Regions from separate parts of the Homo sapiens genome. Here region 2 is linked to region 1. Evidence: fine-mapped expression QTL. A gene starts in region 1. The other region holds a variant in brackets. All regions are shown on one strand. Distances are from middle to middle.

Region 1 (8,327 bases):
CCGAGCACACAGGAAATGCGCAGCAAATGAGAGCTCCCATCCTTGGCATCATTAACTATCCTTGGTTAACAAGATGCAGGTTAAACAAAGAGTGCACAATGACTCCCGGGTTTCTGGCCTGCTGTTACTAAAAGCGGAGACAGGAGTGGGTAGATTGGGAGGGAGGCCTGGAAGAGGATGCGCTCATTTGTCGAGCATGAAGTGCTCACTATTGGAAGAGATGATCCTCCGTGGGTCCCTTGCACTCTCACACATCTTGCTGTGTATGCCAAGATTGCAAGACCCTGACCATTTTTAACCTGGGCCACTTCTCAGTGCTGTGTTTACAGCGAGCCGCCTTGAGGGATGAGGTACCATCTCCCTGGAGGAGGAAGAGCAGGCTTGCTTACTCCTCCCTGCATAAGCAGCTCCAGGCTCGGTGTTCCTCAGCTATGACGCTAACCAGCTGCCTGTGGAACATCCATCTGGGCCCCCCATATTGCCCCTGTGAGACTTGGAGGCAAATATGCTGATGCACATGCTTCTTGCTGTGCTCTGAGTAACAAAGTCCTATGTTTCTGACCACAGAGTGTCATGTCTTCTTTTAGCATCCATGAATCAATGACAGGTTAATTTATTAGCTTATAAGTTGGAAAGAGTCATCAGCGTGTACATGGCAAGTAAAGCCATGATTACAAATAATATTGCCCAGCAGAGCATGTTGGTAATGTGCCTGTAGTGCCAGAAACGCGGGTGGCTGAAACAGGAGTGTCCTTGAGCCCAGGAGTTCAAGGCTGCAGTGAGCTATGATTGCACCACTGCACTCCAGCCTGGGTGACCCTGTCTCAAATAAGTTTATTTGAGACTCTGTCTCAAATAAATGAATAAATAAATAGCATTGCCTAGGAAGAGATACGGGGTAGTACCCTGCATAAAGGCAACAAGTAAAGAATGAGGGTAAGAAAAGGAGCTCCCAGGAGAACTCAAGAAAGAAACCTAGAGGAGAGTAGTTCCTTGCAAGCCAAGGGAGTAGAGTTTCAATCAAAAGAGTAGGCAACAGGATCAGATGCTGCTTAAAAGTCAAGTAAGATGAAGACTGAATGTGGCCACTGAGTGTAGCAACTAGGTCACTTCTTTAGCTGTTGCTAAAGGCTAAAGGCAAGAGGCATTTTAGTGACATGGTGTGGCCAGAAGCCAAGCTGAAGTGGGTGAGGAACGAATGGAGGTAAAGAAAGAATGACAATAGGCTGGGCGTGGTGACTGATACCTGTAATTCCAGCACTTTGGGGGGCCAAGGCCTGAGGATTGCTTGAGGCCAGGAGTTCAAGACCAGCCTGGGCAACATGGTAAAACCGTCTCTACAAAAAAAAATTACAAAAATTAGCTAGGCATGGTGGCGTGCACCTGTGATCCTGGCTACTTGGGAGGCTGAAGTGGGAAGCTAGCTTGAGCCCAGGAGATCAAGTTTGCAGTGAACCGTGATGGTGCCACTGCACTTCAGCCTGGGCTACAGGGTGAGACCCTGTCTCAAAAAAAAAGAAGGGAGGGAGGAAGACAGAGAGAGAAAAGGAAAGAAGGGAGGAAGGAAGGAAGGAGGGAGGGAAGGGAGGGAGGGAGGGAGGGAAACTAAAAATCTTAGCTGAAAAGAAAGGATAAAGTTGGGGCACTGGTGACTGAAGCAGGCAGATGCAAATGAAATTTTTCAATAGATGGAAGAGAGGTGAGTAGAGCATATCTTGAGGAGAACAAGCCAGAAAACAGGAAAAGTCAGGGTAAAAAAATCAAGAGCAAGGGGAGGAGGATAGAATCAGGTCTCTGAAAAAGAGGAGAGGGCTAACATTCAGATCCCAAGTGAGGGGCTGGTCTGGCCCCTCTCCCATTGAAATGGCATTTGCCCCAACCACACACCCTCAAGCAGGCCAACAGGCTATCTAGGTTGTGTGGTCTGTCTCCAGGTGGGTAGAGCTCACTGTCTGTAGGGAGGGGCCTGGTCAATAGGTGTCCTTGGTGGCCACTTTGTCTGGTGGTCCTGCAGACCAGAGATGAGAGACACATAAGTATTTTTCAAGCTGGGTTCTCTGGAGATGCCAGCAGGTGTGTGCTCCTATGCAAAGGGTTCAGGTAAGTTTGGAAAGTGCTGTCCAAGCCCTGCAAAGCCAGCTTGTAGGAAGACTGAGTGTTCTCTGCTGGCAGAGATGGACATTTGGGAGTGGGGTGGCCAAAGGGAAGAGAATGCCTGCAGGAGAGATGCCAGGACTCATACTCAAGGTACTCAGGGATAACGGAGAAGACACCTATGGAAAACCCTGTGATCACAGAGCAGGAAGAGGAACTCATTTGCAGAACATCTCTACTCTGCTTGAAGTTTATATATTGACAAAGATTCTTTGCTTGGCCAAACTTTAGTCAGGCTCCCAAACCTTCTCCTAGACCCTCTTTGCACTTCCATGTAAAATCCAGTTTTAGCAAAGACCCTGTTAAGACAGTTTAGCAAGAACCCTCCATCTTGTATATCTGATCATCTTCAATATCTGATTAGGTTTATCATCCCCCACCCTCCCCCAGGTGATCTCTGGTCACCTGGCCTGTCTAAAGCAAGAATTCTGTTAGGTTGGTGTTGTGAGTGCCACAAAGTCAGAAATAATCAGGTTCATGCACATGTGTGTCTTTCTACAACGTCAGGCTTTTATTGATGCTATTTCAGTCATAAAAGCCACAAGCCACATGGGGTTCTCAAGGAGGCAAATTCTCCTTAGTTTTCCCCATTCACTTGGTAATAAGAGCTGTGGGCATACAGGCTCAAGTCACTCCACAAGTCAGTCAATACTGCCAACCATACATGGTAGTATACTTAATCAATATATAAATGTTATAGATTACACATTCCACATCAAAGTACATTTAACATCAAGAGAAAAGGGGATAGGGAAGGAGCGGTTAACAATATAGTCCAAGGAGAGTGACTTGGACAAGGGGAGTCTCCTGGCCTGATCCAAACAGTCCTCAGTGTCTTGCAAGGAAGAGTCTTTGATGTGGGCAGAGTGTGGGCAAGATGGGGTCTATCCAGACGGTCATCTCCAGTTGCTGAAGTCCTGCTCTTTTTATGGCTACAGAATCCTCTGGTGAGGACTGATAGCAAAGAGTGTGCCTGTTTATGTCTTTATCTGGTGGGGTGTAGTCTTTATTGATTAGGCGAACATCTGGTTCCTGTTGGCATGAGGCTTTTTCAAATGTAAAATGGACCCTTTTTCTAAGATGGAGTTACTTATGTCAAGGGTGCTCCATACAACCTGTTTAGCCAGAATCCCCCTCAGCCCTGATGTTTCCCTTATTAAGTTTCTATCCGCTGACCCCCACCCTGCTCCTTAGCAACGAATTCCCACTTGCCCATGCTGTAATTGGAGTTGAGCTCAATCTCTCTCTCCCTGCAACTGCAAAATCTCATAGCAGAGGTCCCTACACCTATGGTAATGGTCCTGAATAAAGTCTTCCTTACGATGCTTTAACTCATGTCATTAAATAATTTTTTCCTTTAGCAGTGTCCACCGAGTTTACTCTCCCAATTCTTGGCAGTGTTATTATCCTAGCCTGACAGGAAGAATCAGGACTCAAGAAGCTGAAGACTCGCCTGATACTCAGTGCTCACTAAGTAGTGGGGCTCAGCTCCCTGTGATTTGGGATCCAGCCTCCTGCCCCTACAGCCCACGTGCCCTTACACCCTCAAGCAACACCCAGAGCTGGGGTCAGAGGCGAGCTTGCACAATTGCTTCTGCCCTGCGCTGGGACCAGGGCGGCCTGTGGTCTGCAACAGAGAAGCTCCCCCACCTGCCTTCGCCTTCACTCTGGCAAGCCCTGGCAACACCATGAGATCCCAGGGCTCTGGTCCCTTACAGACTGGGCCTGGCAGAGGCACGGGGAGGAAGGTGGGCCAGCAGGGTGTACCGCTGGGCCTACTCGCAGACGTGCGTTTGCTTTGTTGTACCAGGACTACCCCAGGGACCCTTCTCCAGGGCTGTGAGAGTGAGAACAAGAGAACACAGGAGTTCACACCTCTCCGGTCCAGATGCTTTGAGAGCATGATGGAAGCAACAGGCCCTCTCCATAGAAGGGCACGCACACAACCCATAAGCTCGCACAGTTTCCAGGTTTACGCACCAACCACACCACTACAGCGCCCTGCAAGCAGGCCAGGTCTCAAAGGAGCGTGCATGGGAATCACCCAACATGCTGGCTAAAAAGGCGGATCCCAGGCCCCACCGAGGAGATTATCATTCAGTAGGTCTCGGTGGAGGCCTTAGAGCCTGCGTTTTTAACCAGCGCCTCCGACGATTTGGGCGCTGAGGCTCAGCGGAACCCACCTTGAGAAACCCGACTCTGGGCCTAAGAGAGCCCCCCAACACACACACCCCCATGCTCCAAACTTTCCCCATCTCGCCCGACGCACCGGGCGCGCGGTGGTGGAAGCGTCGGGGAGCCCGGTGGGGACCGAGAGCGACGGCCCATGGGGCCTGCCTGTTCCCCTCGCCCCCGCGCCACGGCCCCGGGAAGCGCAGCACTGCCGCCCGCAGGAGGCGCGACTGCCGAGAGGACGCAGGCAGGGGGCGCCTGGTGGTGGTCCCCAGCCCGGAGCCGCGGGGCGGGAAGGAGCGGGAGCCCGAGAAGAGGGAGGCGCGCGACGCCGCGGAGCTCCGGCGCGGAGGCGGGGGGCGGGGCGGGCCGAGCCGGGCCGGGGCGGGGCCGGCGGGCGGGCCGGCGGCGAGCGCCCGGGGAGCGCGCCCGGGTAGCCAAGAGGGAGGAGCGCGGGGAGCGCCGACAGCCGCCCGCCCGCCCGCCCCCGCGACGCCCGCGCGCAACAGTTCCCCCAAAGTTGCAGCCCGGGAGGCGAGCGCGCACGGGCGGCCGAGGGGCGGGCGGTTGGCGGGGACGCGGCCTCGCGGCCCAGAGCGGAGAGTCCCGGCGGGCGGCGGCGGCATGGGCACCCGGCAGACCAAGGGCAGCCTGGCGGAGAGAGCCAGCCCCGGCGCCGCGCCGGGCCCCCGACGCGAACGGCCGGACTTCTGGGCGTCGCTGCTGCTGCGCGCCGGGGACAAGGCGGGGCGCGCGGGCGCGGGGATGCCCCCCTACCACCGGCGAGTCGGCATGGTCCAGGAGCTGCTGCGGATGGTGCGCCAGGGCCGGCGGGAGGAGGCGGGGACGCTGCTGCAGCACCTGCGCCAGGTGAGCGCGGGGAGGGGGCGCGGGGGGCGCGCCGGGCCAGGGGGCGTGCTGGGCCGGGGGGGGCGCCCCATCCCTAACCGAGGAAGCCGGGGGCACCGAGGGGCACCGCCCAGGGGCCCCTTCCGCGGGGATGGAGCCCTGTCTGGCAGCAGGTGCCTCGGCGCTTCCGCTGAATGTGGGGCCTCAGGGCAGGGCGGAGGAAGGCTGGCCGGGTGAGGCCCGCCGAAGGGGACCTGTTGGCATAATGTCCCCACTGCTCTCCTCCGCAGGCAGAGAAGGAGGCTGGTCTCCGGGGACAGTCGGTGGGCGGGGAAGCAGGGATGCCTGCCTGATCTGGGCCAGGGCTCTTTTCTTCCTGTCTGCCCACTGGCAGTCACTCCCGGCCGAGGGTCCTCAAGGAATGCGGTTATCAGTTGGACCTGGCTTGGCTTCCCGAGAGCGAGTCCAGGGGCACAGCCCTGGGGCCAATGAGATTCCAGTCCCTAGGTCCTTCACTCGCCTGGGAGGCATCCTGGATTGTAGTTCAAGGAGGAGACTGTTTCCTCTCCCCTGACTAACTTCAGCAGATCCTCAACCATGAGCCCCTGCGGAAAGCGGTAGAGACAGGGGAGCTGGATTTGGTGCCCTGTGTGACCACCTGGCCAGCAGCAACTTCAGGAGACTGCCAGGACTCTGTCCTTAGCCTGTGCCTGTCCCACTGGCTAGGGACAGATGTTGCGGAATTGGCCAGTTCCCTCTGCTTTGGGGCTGCCCTGAGGCTAATGCTATCACTCACCTCTCTGTGGCTTGTTTTCCTTTGTCAGTTTCTTTGGTGGGGAGAGGAGCATGGCCCATGCCATGGATTTTGTTGAGTATAAGACAGGCAGGGGAGTGCAAAGCTGCTCTCCTGCATCACCAAGCAGGTTGTCTTGGCCTGGCTTTGGTGGGTAGACAATCCAGGCCCCATATTCTTGCTAGACTGACCCCATTAGAGGTGGAGTCTACCGTGGATGGCAGAGGGAAAATCTCAGGTGACCTTTCTGGGGTTTTCCAGTCGCTGCTGAAAGAGGCTGTAGGAGCACCTTCTTGGGAGGAGCTTCCAAAATCTAATCAGACCCACATCCCTCTTGGGTTCTGCAGCACTCTTCCCCACCTTTGTATCTGGTGCGCTCTTACCCTAAAGTATGTGTCCCCAAGCTGTGCACTGCACAGGGAGAGGCAAGCAGAGACGAGGGGACTTGGGAAGATGTGGGACTTCTGCTTCTGCCTCTGTTTTCCCCAACAACTTCCAGAATGATGCCCGAGACGCTGCTGGATCCCCATGTGCCTTCTCTGAGTTCAGTCATCAAAGAAAGATGACATTATGCACCACTGAACTTTAGCAGTGTGTATTTCTTTGTCTTTTGAAAATTGGAAGCTGACATATGGCCTTTATAGTAACTCTTTCACTTTTAAACAGAATATTGGGTTTTCCAGACCATGGTATCCTATTTACACACCATACAGTAAGGTTTTCCTGATCACATGCTGTTTCCCCCACCCTGCAATGGGTGCTTTGGGGGATACAGAAGAACAGAGGGAGCTGGCAAGCACTTCTTGGAGGGTGCAAGACCAGAGCGAAGCTTGCATGATGGAGGGCCGCTTGGAGGCCCACGGGAGGAGACTGGACCCAAAGTGGGCAGATACTTTGGGCTCCCCAGTCCCTGTAGGGCTGAGTGTGATTCCACATCCTGGGGACACTGAGCTTCTCCCTGCCTTGAGGGAGAGTAGATAAGCCCCTGCAGCCCCACTGTGGGATCCTTGAAACAAGAAGCATTTCCTCAGACATCTGCACATGGGTCTTATTGGTGTCCTGGTACCCGCCTCAGCTGCAGGACTGGGAGGGCTGATGGGGGGGTGGGAGGGGGCTTATCAGACTTCCCCCTTTTCTGTGAAAGCAGCAGGTCCTCAGGCTCTGGGCTTCTGGGCTCCTGTTGGGCTCCCTTAACCCCTGGCTGGGGATGCAAGGGCCGTGGGCCTGGAGCTGCCCTGTGTGGCCTGGAACGGATGGAGCAGGACCCCTCCCGAAAGTGGTCATGGGCCTTGAGCAGTGTGGGAGTGGAGCACAGGAGTGTTCACTTGCCTATGACAGAGAGGTGGCTTTCTAGGACCCTGAGGCCATTTGGAGGAATGTCCAGCTGGATTTGTGCTGTGCACTGAAGTGGCTCTTTCTCCAAAATTGCATTTTCCTTTCCATTCCAGTTTCCTTCTCTAGTCTGGTGGTGGTGATGTTCAGAAAGGGAATGAGCAGCTAGTGAGAGCCTTGAGAACACACAAGCCTCACAGGGGTCAGACCAGCAAGAACCTCTTCCTCAGCAAGACAGCCAGTAAAGACAGGGGTCTGCAAAGCGTGGGGCACCCTGTTCTGCAGGAATGTCATGCAGGCCTCTGGGGTGGGAGTCAATGAGCAGGCACAGAACCAGGGAGGGGCAGCAGCGAGGACAGTAGCCCTCACCTCCATTCACACAGCATGTTCTCCTGCATTTGATAACTTGGGTTTGGCTGCTGGATTTGTGTATGCCCAGAGCCATATGGCTGGTGGGGACTCGGGAGCCTTTGTTCCTGTGCTTCTTAGCCTCTTTGAGTCCTTGATCTTTTTGAGGCTCTGAAAAAGCTACACACAATCTTCCCAGGCAAATGCACTGACTCACGCAATCTCACAGGCAATTTCGGAGGGTTCACAAAGCCCCTGAAACCCAGCTACAGACTCCAAGCTCAGAATCTCTGCTCCAGTCCAATACCACCCTTCTCCCTGCTGTGACTTGCTCCAGGCTGGGGATCTGGAAACAGGGACCTGACCCGGGTGCATGTGTGGCAGTTCACGGTGGGCTGAAGGATTGTGGCTGCTGGTGCCACTTCTTCTGAATGCCCCTCTTCAGCATCTAAGATTTGGAGGGCGTCTCTCCAGCTTGTCACTTGCTGGAGAGGTATCAGGAGGCCTCATTCAGCACAAATGACCCTGAGCTGTGGCCAGGGGTGCAGGCAGGATGCCAGGCAGCTGCCTTGAAGGAACAGAAAGTAATCCCCTTCCCTTTAAGATAAGTGTAATCTGAGAAGAGTCCAGGGCCAAGGATCAAGTAGGCAGCTCGCCTTCCGGTCCTCAGTCAGCTGTG
Region 2 (8,327 bases), 20 kb before region 1:
TTGTCAGCCATCCTCTCCTCCCACTCCTCCCAAAGAAAGCATTCAGTGAGTCATCGGGAGACCCGGAGACATCTGACGGTTGCTCAGCTGGTATCCGGCCACTGAGGGGAAGGAGGAGTGTGTTGATGTCCCCTTGGACTCTCCTTGAAGAAACTGCATAGATTCACAGACTCCTGGAAAATCAGAATCCAGAATGTGCACATGATACACGTTTGGTGTGTGTGTTTATTTGTATTCACTCACGGATTCAACAAATATTTGTTGATTACCTGCCATCTACCAGACTTGTTTTAGACTCTGAGGACACAGCATGTACAAAACAACAAAGCCCCTCTCATGGGGTTTATGTGCGTAATAGTCACTCATAGAGCATGTACTGGAAGTCGTGAGGTGTGTAGTCTGGCAGGGAAGAGAGTCAGCCATCAGATGGATGTGGTGAGTGTTATGGCACTGAGATGGAGAGATATACTGGGTGGCGTACGGAGAAGCACAGGAGGAAGAGGCTTCCAAATGGGCACCCTGATAAGTGGACGTTAAATGGCGTGTGGCATCTTCCAGGTTCACTAAGGGAGGCTACTCTCCATTGAGTTAACCTCAAAAATGCATACATGGAAGTACCCTAACACGTGACCCCTTTCTCCTTTCCAATTTCTTTCTATGCTGGCCCCACCCCTAGGTCTTGGAGGTACATAGCTTGTTGTCCGGTTTCAGTTTCACAGCTGGAGAGAAACTTTGCCTCAGGAAGAAGTATACTGGGAGCCTCACCCATACTGGGTTTAGATGAGATTTAGATGAGATTTTGAACTTAAAAGTTGGTGCTGCAAAGAGTTAAGATTTGGAAACTGTTGGGATGGGGTGAATGTATTTTGCATGTGAGAATGACATTCATTTTTAGCCAGAGGGAGAAGCGTTATGGGCTGAATTATGGTCCCCCCAAAATTATTCATGAAGTCTAATACCCACAACCTCAGAATAGGACCTTATTTGGAGATAGGTCTCTAAAGAAGTAATTAAGTCAAAATGAGGTCATTAGGGTGGACCCCAGTCCAGTAGGATTGGTGTCCTTATGAGGCGATTAGGGCACAGACACCCACAGAGACACCCACAAAGGGATGACCACGCGAAGAGGCAGGGAGAAGATGCCATCCACAAGCAAGGAGAGAGGCCTCTGAAGGAACCAACCCTGCCAACACCTTGATCTTGAACTTCTAGCCTCTGGAATTGGGAAGAAACAACTTTCTGTTGTTTAAACCACCCGGGCTGTGGTATTTTGTTATGACAGCTCTAGCAAACGAATACAGAGGTGTTTGTGAAAAGGAAGCAGCACAGTGTGGTAGGGTAGGGTAGTACACTCTGGGCACCTCCAAACAGTTCTGCAGACTTGGAGTGTAGGGTGCAAGGGATGGAGGGGAGGCTGGAGAGATGGGCAGGGGCCCGGCCATGAAGGGCCTCTGGTGACAAGGATTTGGGACTTAATTCAGCATTCAAGGTATTGAGGTATTGAGGATGAAGTCAGGCTGGGCGCGGTGGCTTGCGCCTGTAATCCTAGCACTTTGGGAGGCCAAGGCAGGCAGATCACGAGGTCAGGAGTTCAAGACCAGCCTGGTCAACATGGCGAAACCCTGTCTCTACTAAAAATACAAAAATTAGCCCGGCGTGGTGGCAGGCACCTGTAATTCCAGCCATTCGGGAGGCTGAGGGAGGAGAATCACTTGAACCCGGGAGGCAGAGGTTGCAGTCAGCCAAGATTGTGCCATTGCACTCCAGCCTGGGCAACAAAAGCAGGACTCCATCTCAAAAAAAAATAAATAAATAAATGAAAGGAGGAAGTCGGATACAATGCTGTATTGCAGATATAGTACAATGCTGTATTATAGGAAGATCATTTAAAGGAGGCATGGAGGAGCTAAAAGGAGAGAAGAACTGGAGGCAAGAAGATAGGGGTCACACTAACAGACATAAAACATGGGTCAGACACCGTGGCTCACGCCTGTAATCCCAACACTTTGGGAGGCTGAGGTGGGTGGATCACGAGGTCAGGAGTTCGAGACCAGCCTGGCCAACATGGTGAAACCCTGTCTCTACTAAAAATACAAAAATTAGCCAGGCGTGGTGGCACGCGCCTGTAATCCCAGCTACTCGGGAGGCTGGGGCAGGAGAACCACTTGAACCCAAGAGGCGGAAGTTGCAGCGAGCCAAGATCGAGCCACTGCACTCCAGCCTGGGTGACAGAAAAAGACTTTGTCTTGGGAAAACAAAACAAAACAAAACAAAAACATGATTCTGGCTGGGACTAAGGCAAGGGTAGCCAGGATGGAGAGGTAGGGTCCCAGAGAGATGCTGGGAATGTAGAATCCACAAGAGTTGGCTGCAAGTTGGATGAGGAGCAGGGAAATGCTGAGGGAAAGAGAAGCGAGAGGAGCAAGGGTGTGGGGAGGAAGCGACCTCCACCCTGCACGTGTTGAGTTTGAGATGTGATTGTGCTCTGACTCCACACGCGCAATTGAGAACCAGCTCCTGCAGAAGGGAACTGAACCAAAGGCCTCGGAGGAGACTGCCTGGGAAGAGAAGCTGGACAAGGGCAAATCAGTGGACCAGTGTGCCATGTGGTATACTGAAGGAAGGGGGGATTCTCTGAGGAAGATGGAGAGGTGATGTCAAAGAGGAAGAAGGCAAACTAGGAAGGAGCAGGGTCTTGACCCCTACTGCATTGAGAAACAAGAGGGTGGAGAAAGCCCCAGACAGGAAAGAGCAGTCGCAATGGCAAATGCGGCAGACAGGTCAACATGAGGACTTGGAACTTGCCCAAGAGAGTGGCTCAAGAGAGTGAACCGAGCCCCTGCCAATAAATAAATATTTGTAGAATGAAGGAAAAACCCCTGGAAGGTGAGACTATGAGCACCATCTCCAAAGAGCGATCACTGCCGTATCATTTTATGCCTTTCCAATCTCGTACCGGGAATCCCCATCTTCCAAGTTGTCACTGAAATGACTAAAAGAGTATGAAAGTAGAGGGTGATTACACTAGACATAGAAGAAAACGGCCGCTCAGGCCTCAGAGACCTCAAGGAACTTCTGCGAGGCATGGCGGAAATAAGAGTAGATTCAAAGAAGTGCCTGCAGACCTTTAAGTCACCATGTGCAGAGAAAAGTGGAAAACCTCAGCAAAACCCCAGCAACACCCTGAGCATTGGCAAAAGGCATATTCTGTTACACACATCACAAGCAGGGGCATGCCAACCACTGTGCCAGGTACGGAGGCACTGCAAGAACCAAGACAGATGGAACCTGGCCCTCAGGGAGCTTAATTCTGGTAGGAAAGGTGGACAGTAAACAAGTAAACAAATCAAGCAAGGAATCACAGAGTATGATAAGTATGATGAATGAAATAAATGGCCGGGCGCAGTGGCTCACGCCTGTAATCCCAGCACTTTGGGAGGCCGAGGTGTGTGGATCACCTGAGGTCCAGAGTTTGAGACCAGCCTGACCAACATGGAGAAACCCCTTCTCTACTAAAAATACAAAATTAGCCAGGCGTGGTGGCGCATGCCTATAATCCCAGCTACTTGGGAAGCTGAGGCAGGAGAATGGCTTGAACCCGGGAGGCGGAGGTTGCTATGAGCCAAGATCATGCCATTGCACTCCAGCCTGGGCAACAAGAGTGAAACTCCATCTCAAAAAAAAAAAAAAGAAAGAAAGAAACTAGGATGGGCCAGGCACGGTGGCTCACGCCTGTAATCCCAACACTTTGGGAGGCTGAGGCGGGTGGATCACCTGAGGTCAGGAGTTCAAGACCAGCCTGGCCAACATAGTGAAATCCCGTCTCTACTAAGAATATACAAAAATTAGCTGGACATGGTGGCACGCATCTGTAATCCCAGCT[A/G]CTTGGGAGGCTGAGAGAGAAGGACCCCTTGAATCCATGAGGCGGGAGTTGCAGTGAGCTGAGATTGCGCCACTGCACTCCAGCCTGGGTGACACAGCAAGACTCCATCTCAAAAAAATAAAAGAAACAAACTAGCATTAGCCAATAGAAACTGGACAGGGACTAGTTAAGATGTATGGCAGTCAGTTTATCTTGCTGAAATTTTTCCAGCTTGAGTTACATGACAGATCTCATGTATCATCATGTTGTAGGATCTATCACATTTTGCACAGTTAGAATTTTCTCCTGTCACGTTTTGGACAGCCACCACTGCCAATGTAGGAGTGGTGGGGGAGGGGTTGTTGGAAAAAAATTCTGTAATTTGCTCCCTGAGGCTACACTTTGATTCCCTGGGTCAAAGTAGCAGGGATGGGAGGCAAAGATGAGCCAGCAGAAGTGGAAGGGGACAGTGACCATATCCCAATGTCACAGAGTACATGCAAGAAACAATGTACAGCCATTTTTTATGCCCATTCCTTATTTCTCCTGATAATACAGCCTGCTCCAGGCACAGCAGGGATGCTCAACCCAAGTCCCTCCCAGAATTTTCAAGTGAGAGACAGGGAGGACGCTTCCTCTTTGGCCCAGCAGCTGTGAGGATATGAGCTTAGAGATCATGATGCTTTTTCCCTGCTGTGTGAAGAGGCTTAACTGCACAAAGAGAGAATGAAGCCAACACACCCAGAGCAGTGGGGATAAGAGGTGGAGAAAATGCGCCCTGCTGGTCCAGCTGTCCCTGCGGCCAGCTGCACCCCATCACTTCCTGTGCTTTGGTTCTCTGAGCCTCTTCCCTTTTCTGCCTAAACTGCTTTCAGGTGAGTTTCTGCAATTTGCAACTGTATTAGGGTTCTCCAGAGGAAAAGAACCAACAGGATGCGTGTGTGTGTGTGTGTGTGTGTGTGTGTGTGTGTGTGTGTGTGTGTAGAGAAAGAGAGAGACAGAGACAGAGAGAGATTTATTGTAAGGAATTGGCCTGTGCAATTATGGAGGCTGAAACTTCCCAAGATCTGCAGTCAGCAAGTTGAAGACCCAGGAGTATACATTCCAGTCTGAAAGCCACAGGCTCAAGACCCAAGAAGAGCAGATGTTTCTGTTTGAGACCAAAGACAGAAAAAGACCAATGTCCTGGTCCCCACAGTCAGGCAGGAAGGGGTTTCCTATTACTCAGCCTTTGTGTTCTACCCAGGCCTTCAACTGATGGGATGCAGCTCACCCACATTAGAGAGAACAATCAGCCTCACTCAGTCTACAGATTCAAATTCTGACCTCGTCCAGAAACACCTTCACAGACACAGCAGAATAATGTTTGACCAGATATCTGGGCATCTAGTGGCCCAGTTGAGCTGACAGATAAAATGGACCATCGGAGTAGCCTAAGTGTCTAATCGTGATGACGTAGCTGAAATCACACAGAGTGGGGATCATATCACAACCTACTCCTGAAGTCAAGGCTGTACTAAACAAAGCAAGGGCCCCTTGATGGCAGGCTTGAACTTGCGCTGCTCCTACCATTTAGCAGAGGGGACCCAAGCTAACCTCAGGGGCAAAGATCCCTGCCATGTTTGCCTCATTCAGAGCTCTCTCTGCTTCCTAAGGCTCCTAGCATCAAAATAGGCTCTTGGGGATTGGCTGTTTACTGGCTAGGGTGAGCTAAGCTGCTGTGACAAGTAGACCTAAAGATGTAAATTGGCTCAAACACAGGAGTTTATTTCTCACTCACATAAGCGACTGCAGCATGTGTTTTCAGCCGATGGGCAGCTCTCTGCCATAGGGCGATGCAGGGATCCAGGCTCCCATCATGGCTCTCCCATACAGCCTAGTTGTCATCTACATCTTGCCAGCAGAAGGGAAAAGGGAATTCTCAGAAGCCTTGGCCAGAGTGGCACACATCACTTTAGGTCTTGTTCCATTGGTGGGAGCTACTGAAATGGCCACACTAAACTGCAAAGAAGGCTGGAAAATGTAATCTGGTCTTGCATCTTGTTATAACTTCCATCACTACAAAAGGGGAACATGATTGGGGTGGGCAGAAAAGTCTGCTTTCTGAGAGAACTAAATGGCTGGCACTGGGGCATTTGGATTCTAGTTCTAGACCAGGATTTCTTAATCTTGACACCATTGGTATTTTAGACTGGAAAATTCTTTTCGCGGAGAGGAGGCCGTCCGGGCATTGTAGGATGTTTAGCAACATCCCTGGCCTCTACCCACCTGATGCCAGTAGCTCCCTCAACCCCAGTCATGACAATGGAAAATGTCTCTAAACATTGCCACATGACCTTTGGACACAAAATCACCCGCCATTGTTCTAGACAACAAGAGGAATGGTCAGAATCTTCTGTCAACCGGAGAGGAAATGTAATGAAGTGGCATGCTCACACTTCCTCTCTGTCACTTGGAAAGTGTGGCTACTAGTTTTTGCTCACAACATTGACAGAATAGCTGAGATGCTGACTTGAAGTTTCAGAGAGAACTGAGTGATAATGACTTCGAGCCCTCAGACTCTTTAGTGAGAGAGTAATGCCATGAGAATAATGCCCAGGGATTCTGCAAATGCTCATCACAGCCAGAACAGCACGAAAGGAAATGCCCTGTTAAGTTTCTTCACTTCACGCCGCACAAAAGTCAGAACAGGCCAGGTGCAGTGGCTTGTACCTGTAATCCCAACACTTAGGGAAGCCAAGACAGGAGGATGGCTTGAGTGCAGGAGTTCGAGACCAGCCTGGGCAACGTGGTGAGACCCTGTCTGTACAAAAATTTTTTTAAATTAGCTGGGTATTCGCCGGGTGTGGTGGCTCACACCTGTAATGCCAGCACTTTGGGAGGCCGAGGCGAGTGGACCACCTCAGGTCAGGAGTTCGAGACCAGCCTGGCCAACATGATGAAACCCCATTTCACTAAAAATACAAAAATTAGCTGGGCATGATGGCACGTGCCTGTAGTCCCAGCTGCTCCGGAGGCTGAGGCAGGAGAATTGCTTGAACCCAGGAGGCGGAGGTTGTAGTGAGCTGAGATCGCACCACTGCACTCCAGCCTGGGTGACAGAGTGAGACTCTGTCTCAAAAAAAAAAAAATTAGCTGGGTATGGTGGCATGTCCCTATAGTCTCAGCTACTCAGGAGGCTGAAGAAGGGGAATCACTTGAGCCCAGGAATTTGAGGCTGCAGTGAGCCATGATTGCGCCACTGCACTCCAGCATGGGTGACAGAGCAAGAACTTGTCTCAAAAAAAAAAAAAAAAAAGGCAAACTCATACTAGCTTTTCTGCAATGAACAGACTTTCTGAGTTATTTGTGTGGATTCTCTGAAACGTCTGTGAGAGACAAGATTTTTTGATACTTGCCTAACACAAGACGATGTTTGTAAACACTTGTAAAGTTCTTGTTATTTCTGAACATTGTGAGCTATAGAGTAGACAGACCCCTAGGAAAGATATTTCTTTGCAGGAAATGGACTGCCCTATTATAACAAGTGAAAATTCTTTGCAGCCTGGCGAAAACCAGAAATAATACCATCCAGCAAAGCTTCAGGATGCTTTACCTCCTGGAAACCCAGCCGTATTGTTCTAACTTCATAGGAAACTGATTTTCTGGCTGTAGCTGATGGGGATTACTTCGTGTTCCATGGGGATCTTTGGGACAAGCTGTAGTCTCAGACAATGAACTGTGGGTTTCTGTGTCACTGCCAGCATAAAATATTAGTCTCCTGATTCACGGAGAATATGCTAGACTCTTGAACATTAAGTAAAGACAGTTACATAAGTATTTTTTATTAGAAAGCTACTTGCGAGAGATAAACTACAAGGTCATAATCAATAAGGCTCAATTTGAAACACTGCTGAGAAAAGAGAATAGAGACTTTTTTTTGCTGCTGGAGTTGCAGACTTATGTCAGACTGAGATTTGTGTGCAAATATCTAAGTATTCATACTCCTCTGGCTGAGTGCAGTGGCTCAGGCCTATAATCCTAACACATTGGGAGGCCAAGGTGGGAGGATCCTTTGGGGCCAGGAGTTCAAGACCAGCCTGGGCAAAATAGCGAGACTCTCTCTCTACTAAAAAATACAAAATTAGCCAAGTGTGTTGGCATACACTGTAGTTCCAGATGCTCAGTAGGCTGAGTTGGGAGGATCCCTTGAATCCAGGAGTTCAAGGCTGCAGTGAGCTATGATCATGCCACTGCACTCCAGCCTGGGCAACAGAGTAAGACCCTATCTCAAAAAAAAGAAAAAAAAGAAAAGGTACTCTTTCTGATTATGAGCAATTTGGGTCAGAACAAGCATTTGATATTTCACAAACCCATGTCCATCATTCTCTCCAAACAGGCCTGAAAACACTAGACTTTTAGGCTTTTTGCCAGTTTCTACATAGTCTGGAAGCAAGAATGAATAAATCGGATAAGTAATCTTGCA

The links. PIP is the estimated chance that this variant, and not a neighbour inherited with it, causes the effect. A credible set is the group of variants that fine-mapping cannot tell apart.
Region 2: its variant is the best candidate, but not a certain one, in a credible set for the expression of LRRC75A in whole blood (TOPMed, PIP 0.72).

The regions. Positions count from the first base shown.
Region 1 is chr17:16,488,614-16,496,940 of GRCh38, reverse strand. LRRC75A (leucine rich repeat containing 75A) reads left to right here and starts at 4,748. Exons shown (of 4, transcript NM_001113567.3): 1 at 4,748-5,196. The coding sequence starts at 4,951. All of the region lies in intron 2 of LOC124903936 (a long non-coding RNA gene), which reads right to left. RefSeq lists silencers at 4,496-4,835, 4,926-4,975, 5,086-5,145.
Region 2 is chr17:16,508,487-16,516,813 of GRCh38, reverse strand. No RefSeq gene overlaps it. Among named protein-coding and RNA genes, the nearest start is that of LRRC75A, 20 kb to the right of the region's middle. RefSeq lists an enhancer at 1-530. The variant A/G (reference allele first, on the strand shown) is at 3,884.